2 separate regions of the Homo sapiens genome follow, and region 2 is linked to region 1. Evidence: fine-mapped expression QTL. A gene starts in region 1. The other region holds a variant in brackets. All regions are shown on one strand. Distances are between the middles of the regions. Region 1 holds the start of NUBP2 (NUBP iron-sulfur cluster assembly factor 2, cytosolic). Region 2 has its middle 12 kb from the start of HS3ST6.

Evidence for each region.
Region 2: its variant is fine-mapped to the expression of NUBP2 in whole blood (TOPMed, PIP above 0.99).

What each region holds. Positions count from the first base shown.
Region 1 is chr16:1,781,371-1,784,264 of GRCh38, forward strand. It overlaps NUBP2 (NUBP iron-sulfur cluster assembly factor 2, cytosolic), which reads left to right and starts at 1,590. Exons shown (of 7, transcript NM_012225.4): 1 at 1,590-1,666. The coding sequence starts at 1,651. EME2 (essential meiotic structure-specific endonuclease subunit 2) reads left to right here. Exons shown (of 8, transcript NM_001257370.2): 8 at 1-332. It overlaps SPSB3 (splA/ryanodine receptor domain and SOCS box containing 3), which reads right to left and starts at 1,201. Exons shown (of 7, transcript NM_080861.4): 1 at 1,132-1,201; 2 at 1-125. The coding sequence starts at 113. RefSeq lists silencers at 809-1,168, 1,669-1,878, 2,306-2,532 and an enhancer at 1,379-1,528.
Region 2 is chr16:1,928,475-1,931,368 of GRCh38, forward strand. No RefSeq gene overlaps it. Among named protein-coding and RNA genes, the nearest start is that of HS3ST6, 12 kb to the left of the region's middle. The variant C/G (reference allele first, on the strand shown) is at 1,380.

The DNA.
Region 1 (2,894 bases):
TCGTAGCCCCAGTTAGTGGAGCCTGCTAGAGCCACGGCCCGGGCATCTGCGTCTCGGCGGGCTGCACTCAGGACGAAGTGCCAGGCCCTGCTGTTCCGGGGGCGTCTGGCCATGGTGGAAAGAATCTAGAAGAAAACACAGGCTCTGGGCAAAGGAAGACTCACAGCACTCCCAGCCCTGAGCTTCCAGGCTGGGCCACGGACCCACTCAAAGTGGGGACTGCAGGGGCCGCACCGGTGCCCAGCCAGGGCTCCAGAACGCTTCAGGAGCCCGTACCTCACTCCAGGATCTGAGCAGCTCAATAAAACCCAGGTAGATCCTGTGAAACGCCACCCAGACACCCATGACTCCGGAATGCGAATCCCAGCCCCTCTCTCCGGTTCCACCTCACGAACCTGGCTGCCCCGCCCGCCTGTCCCGCAGGCATCTAAAACCTCCACTCGCTCCTCCTCTGTCGTCCGGTTTGACAAATGGCATCTCCGGCCTCCCAGTTCCTCATGCCAGAAGCACCGTGACCGCTCCCCGACACCTTCCCCTCACGCCCGGCCCGACCGCCGCACCCGCCTGCATCCTCCTCCCGCCACCGTCTCCTGGGCCGCGCAGCTCGCCTTCCCCTCCGCTCGCTACCGCCAGGGCTCCTCGTGAAACACAAATCTTAAAACCTGCTCAGCGCTGGCCGCTGTTATGGTATAAAATGCAAAAGGCTGCGAGGGCCAGGTCTGCGCTTCCCAGGCCACCTGCCTGGCACCTCCCTCGCCAGCTCCGGGGTTCCCGCCTAGCCTTCCAGGGCCGACCCCTGCGCCGGGCTCGCGGCTGGCAACGCCCGCTGGGCCCCGGGTGGGGTTCCAGGGAGGCCGGGGCGGATCGCGGCGCCCGGACCGCCGAACCCTGCCCAGCCCCAGGCGAGCGCGTGTGCAGCGGGAGCCGCCCTCCCCGGCGGCAGCCCGGCCTGGCTGTTCCCTCCCGCGGGCGCGCGGGTTCCGGAGTCGGCGGCACCGGGGAAGCCTCTCTCGGGCGCGGCCCTCCGGAGAGGAACAAAGGCGGCGCCCTGGCCGCGCTGCTACCGCCGCGCCCGCAAGGTCAGCGCGCCCGCCCAGAGCCCGAGACGTCGGCCCGTGCCCCGCCACTCACCTGCAGCCCCCGCTGCGCGCTCCGCCGGCCCGGCCCTGACCCACTTTCCGCCCCGGAGCGAGACGTAAACAATCCCCGCCCCCTGCGCCCATTGGCTCCGGCGGCGAGGGGCGGGCACACCTGTCTCGGAGCTTCGGGAGAGGGGGCGGGAGTCGGGTGACAAAGCTATTGCCGAGAGGTTTCAGGAACTGTCAGTCCTAATCCAACGTTCCTATTGGTCAGTTCCCAAGCGGTTGGAGACAAAGCTCGCGCGCACATTGGACCCGGGTGGGAGGTGGTACCGCAGGCCGCGTTGACCGGAAAGTAGGTCCGTGTCATCGTCTGCGCCGGAACCTGCGGGACCGGATCGAGAGCTCCTCCGGCAAGCTGATTGGCTGGGACAGCAGGATTAGGCCTGTCAAGAAGAGCCACGGGCGGGCACGCACTGCCCATTGGTTGGAAGGCCCTTCGCTCTAGCTGGGAGGCTGACGGCCCGCGGGCGTAAGCGGACTGCAGCCGCGAGCTCCTGGAGGCGGCGGGATGGAGGCGGCGGCCGGTGAGTGGCGGGCCAGGGTGCGGAGCCGCTCCAGGGCCTCGCTTGGGGCCCCGCCGCGTCCCTTCCCGGGGCGGCCTCGCTGCGTCGCGCGCCTCCGGTGCGACCATCACCGGCCGGCGTGGCTGGGCCGGGCCAGAGGCCGCGGCGCGGGCATTTTCTAAACAGGGTCGTTTCCCGCGTGCTCCTGCTTCGATGTGGAAGCTCCGTGATCTCGGAGGGCCTGAGTCGTGGAGTTGGGGGAGCTTTTAAAGTTAACTTTGTTGAGCACCGCGTTGTAGGCGGGCGCGGTGGCGCCTGTGGGCCCCGCTATCCTGGAGGTCGCGGTTGCAACTGCACCGCAGCCCGGGCAAGAGCGAGACCCTGTCTCTAAATAAATCACACGCGCGCAGTCATGAAAGTAAGACGGACGCCAGAATCTCACATGCTTTTAAGTTCTTTGTGGAAGTGGCGCTCTCAGTGTTCAGAAAAGTGTAAGTTGCGCGGGACAGAATTCACACCAGTGGGGACGATCCGTTCGCCAGATCAGCGCCGTGGGCCCTCCTGAGTAGTGGGAGCCGCATTTATCTTCTAAGAGACCTCGAGTCCGATACCAAAAGGAAAACATTCCTCGGACAGCAAGGTCTTGCAGCACAACTCTGACAGATTAGAAACCGAGTGCTGGAGTCTTTTGTTTTTGAGACGGAGTCTCGTTCTGTCGCCCAGGCTGGAGTGCAGTGGCGCGGTCTCGGCTCACTGCCAGCTCCGCCTCCCGGGTTCACGCCATTCTCCTGCCGCAGCCTCCCGAGTAGCTGTGACTACAGGCGCCCGCCACCACGCCCGGCTAATTTTTTGTATTTTTAGTAGAGACGGGGTTTCACCGTGTTAGCCAGGATGGTCTCGATCTCCTGACCTCGTGATCCGCCCGTCTCAGCCTCCCAAAGTGCTGGGATTACAGGCGTGAGCCACGGCGCCTGGCCCAGTGCTGGAGTCTTATTCCAGAGGAGAAGCCTGGAAAAGCCTGTCCTTATTATCAGGACGGATTTACTACAAAGTAAGGATATTACTGAGATTGATAGAAGCTTTTTTTTTTTTTTGAGACAGGGTCTTAACTGTCGCCAAGGCTGAAGTGCAGTGGCACGATCATAACTCACTGCAGCCTTGACCTCCTGGGCTCAAGCGACCCTCCCACCTCAGCCTCCTGAGCACCTGGGACCACAGGATGCACCACCCCGCTTGGCTACATTTTTAA
Region 2 (2,894 bases), 150 kb after region 1:
GGAAGCCGAGGTGGGGGATCCCTTGAGCCCAGGAATTCAAGATCAGCCTGGGCAACAAAGCCAGAGCACGTCTCTACAAAAAGTTTTTTTAAAAAATTAGCCAGGCACAGTGGCTCATGCCTGTAATCCCAGCACTTTGGGAGACCAAAGCGGGAGTGTCACTTGAGCCCAGGCGTTCCAGACTAGCCTGGACAACATGGCAAAACCCTGTCTCTACTAAAAATACAAAAATTAGCGGGGCGTAGTAGCACACCTGTAGTCCTAGCTATTCGGGAGGTTGACCTGGGAGGATCGCTTGAGTCCAGGAATTCAAGGCTGCAGTGATCCATGGTCATGCCACTGCACTCCAGCCCAGGCAACAGAGAAACCCCCTTCTCAAGAAGAAACAACCAGGCCCGGCGCGGTAGCTCATGCCTGTAATCCCAGCACTTTGGGAGGCCCTGCTGGGCGGATCATGAGGTCAGGAGATCGAGACCATCCTGGCTAACACAGTGAAACCCCGGCTCTACCAAAAATACAAAAAAATTAGCCGGGCGCAGTGGTGGGCGCCTGTAGTCCCAGCTACTCGGGAGGCTGAGGCACGAGAATGGCGTGAACCCGGGAGGCGGAGCTTGCAGTGAGCCGAGATCGCGCCACTGCACTCCAGCCTGGGCGGCAGTGCCAGACTCCGTCTCAAAAAAAAAAAAAAAAAGAAACAACCCCAAACTGTAATTATGATAAACAACACCGATCTCATTTATGGAGTAGGAAATCAAGCTGGAGAGGTGGGGTCAGCCTAGGTCAGAGCAGGCAAGGACTGTGGGAACCTCTGAGGGAGGGACCTGGTCTGGTTATTATTTTGCAGAGAGGACTCTGGTTGGGGGAAGGCAGCCAGGAGCTGCCTGGGTTGTAGCGGGGAGAGGTGGGCGGAGGAAAGAGGCCTGGGATGTGGAACCCTAGGATCTAGCCCTGAGGGCGGGCCAGGTCCGGGCAGCCTGGGTCCCACGCAGCTGCCCTGAAGAAGGGGCTGGGGGCGTCCTGCCTCCACCCGCGCCCCCAACCACGCCTGCCGTTCCCACCGGCCGCGCCACCCCCGCCCCCGCCCCTGGCTCTGTCCTCCGGTGACCCTGGAAGGGGCACCCGTGGCTGCGACTGCACTCCCTGTAGCGGTCACTTCGTGAAGCCCGGCAAACCCCCTGCAGCTGCCCCTGGCACCCTCAGACGACCAGAGGCCTCGGCCTGGGTCCCCAGCACCGGCCCAAGGGCGGGCGTGGCCGAGGCGGTTTCTCTGCGCGGACGCTCGCTGCCTCCGCCGCAACCCCCGCGGCCACCCGGGGAACTGCAGCGCCGTCAGGCCCCCCGCCGCGCCTGCGCACGCAGACCACCCGGCCTGGCAGCAC[C/G]GAGCGAGCGTGCCCCCTGCTGGTCAGTCCTGCGCACGGTCCCGCGCCCGGGCCCGGGAGGCCGCCTCGAGGGCCGGGGCTTGCACGTGGCCTCGGCGCCTTCGCCGACCCTACCGGACGCCCCCTCCTCCCACCTGCCGACCCGTCCGCGGGTAGGAGCCTCCCGGGAGCTGCCCACGGCCCCCACCCCCACCAGGGGCCACAGCCCCACCAGGGCCAGGCTCTGCGCGGCACCTGCCACTGAGAGAGCGGAAAGCGGTGGTTGAGCAAGGGTCTGAAGTATGGTCTGTTCCCCCATACGGGCCGCAGACGCTTCCTGGTGGCTGCTCTGAGCCAGGCCTGGGCCCCGGCGAGGGATCACGGTGTCTCAGACAGAGTTCCTTTTTATTCCCCATCCCTCGCCCGAGGTGACGGCCCAGCCGTGCCCAGGCCTGCCCGCTGCCCCTGAACCCAACCCTTGAGGGGCAAGGCCGTGCCCTGGGGAGGAAGGGGCTGCCCCCTCAGAGTCTGCTGTTCCTCAAGGAAGACGCGGGGGCAGCCGCAAGGATGGGGTATCACCCAGCAGGAGCGGGAGGGTAAGGTGACTGATTCCACACCAGACGCTCCATTGCTGGAAACACCACCCCCTCCTCCGGTGACCTGGCATACAGACCTTGCCCACAGCCATCCCTCCCTGGACTCTCAATGTGAGGGGGCCTTGGGGTCCTGCGGTTCACCCGTCTCCCCACTCAAGCAGTCTGCTTGCCGGCACCCCCCCCACCTCCTGAGCCCACTTGCCCCCTCCCACCCCCACCTCCCTACCACATCTTTTTTTTTTTTTTTTTCCTGAGACGGAGATTTGCTCTTGTTGCCCAGGCTGGAGTACAATGGTGTCATCTCGGCTCACCACAACCTCCCTGAGCCTCAGCCTCCCAGGCTGAGCCTGAGCCTCCCAGGTTCAAGCGATTCTCCTGCCTCAGCCTCCCGAGTAGCTGGTGTAGGGAAAAGAAAGAGAGATCAGACTGTTACTGTGTCTATGTAGAAAGGGAAGACATAAGAGACTCCATTTGAAAAAGACCTGTACTTTAAATAATTGCTTTGCTGAGATGTTGTTAATTTGTAGCTTTGCCCCAGCCACTTTGACCCAACCACTTTGATCCAATCTGGAGCTCACAAAAACATGTGCTGTATGAAATCAAGGTTTAAGGGATGTAGGGCTGTGCAGGACGTGCCTTGTTAACAAAATGCTTACAAGCAGTATACTTGGTAAAAGTCATTGCCATTCTCCAGTCTCAATAAACCAGGGGCACAATGCACTGTGGAAAGCTGCAGGGACCTCTGCCCTTGAAAGCAGGGTATTGTCCAAGGTTTCTCCCCATGTGATAGTCTGAAATATGGCCTCGTGGTATGAGAAAGACCTGACCGTCCCCGAGCCCGACACCTGTAAAGGGTCTGTGCTGAGGTGGATTAGTCAAAGAGGAAAGCCTCTTGTAGTTGAGATAGAGGAAGGCCACTGTCTCCTGCCTGCCCCTGGGA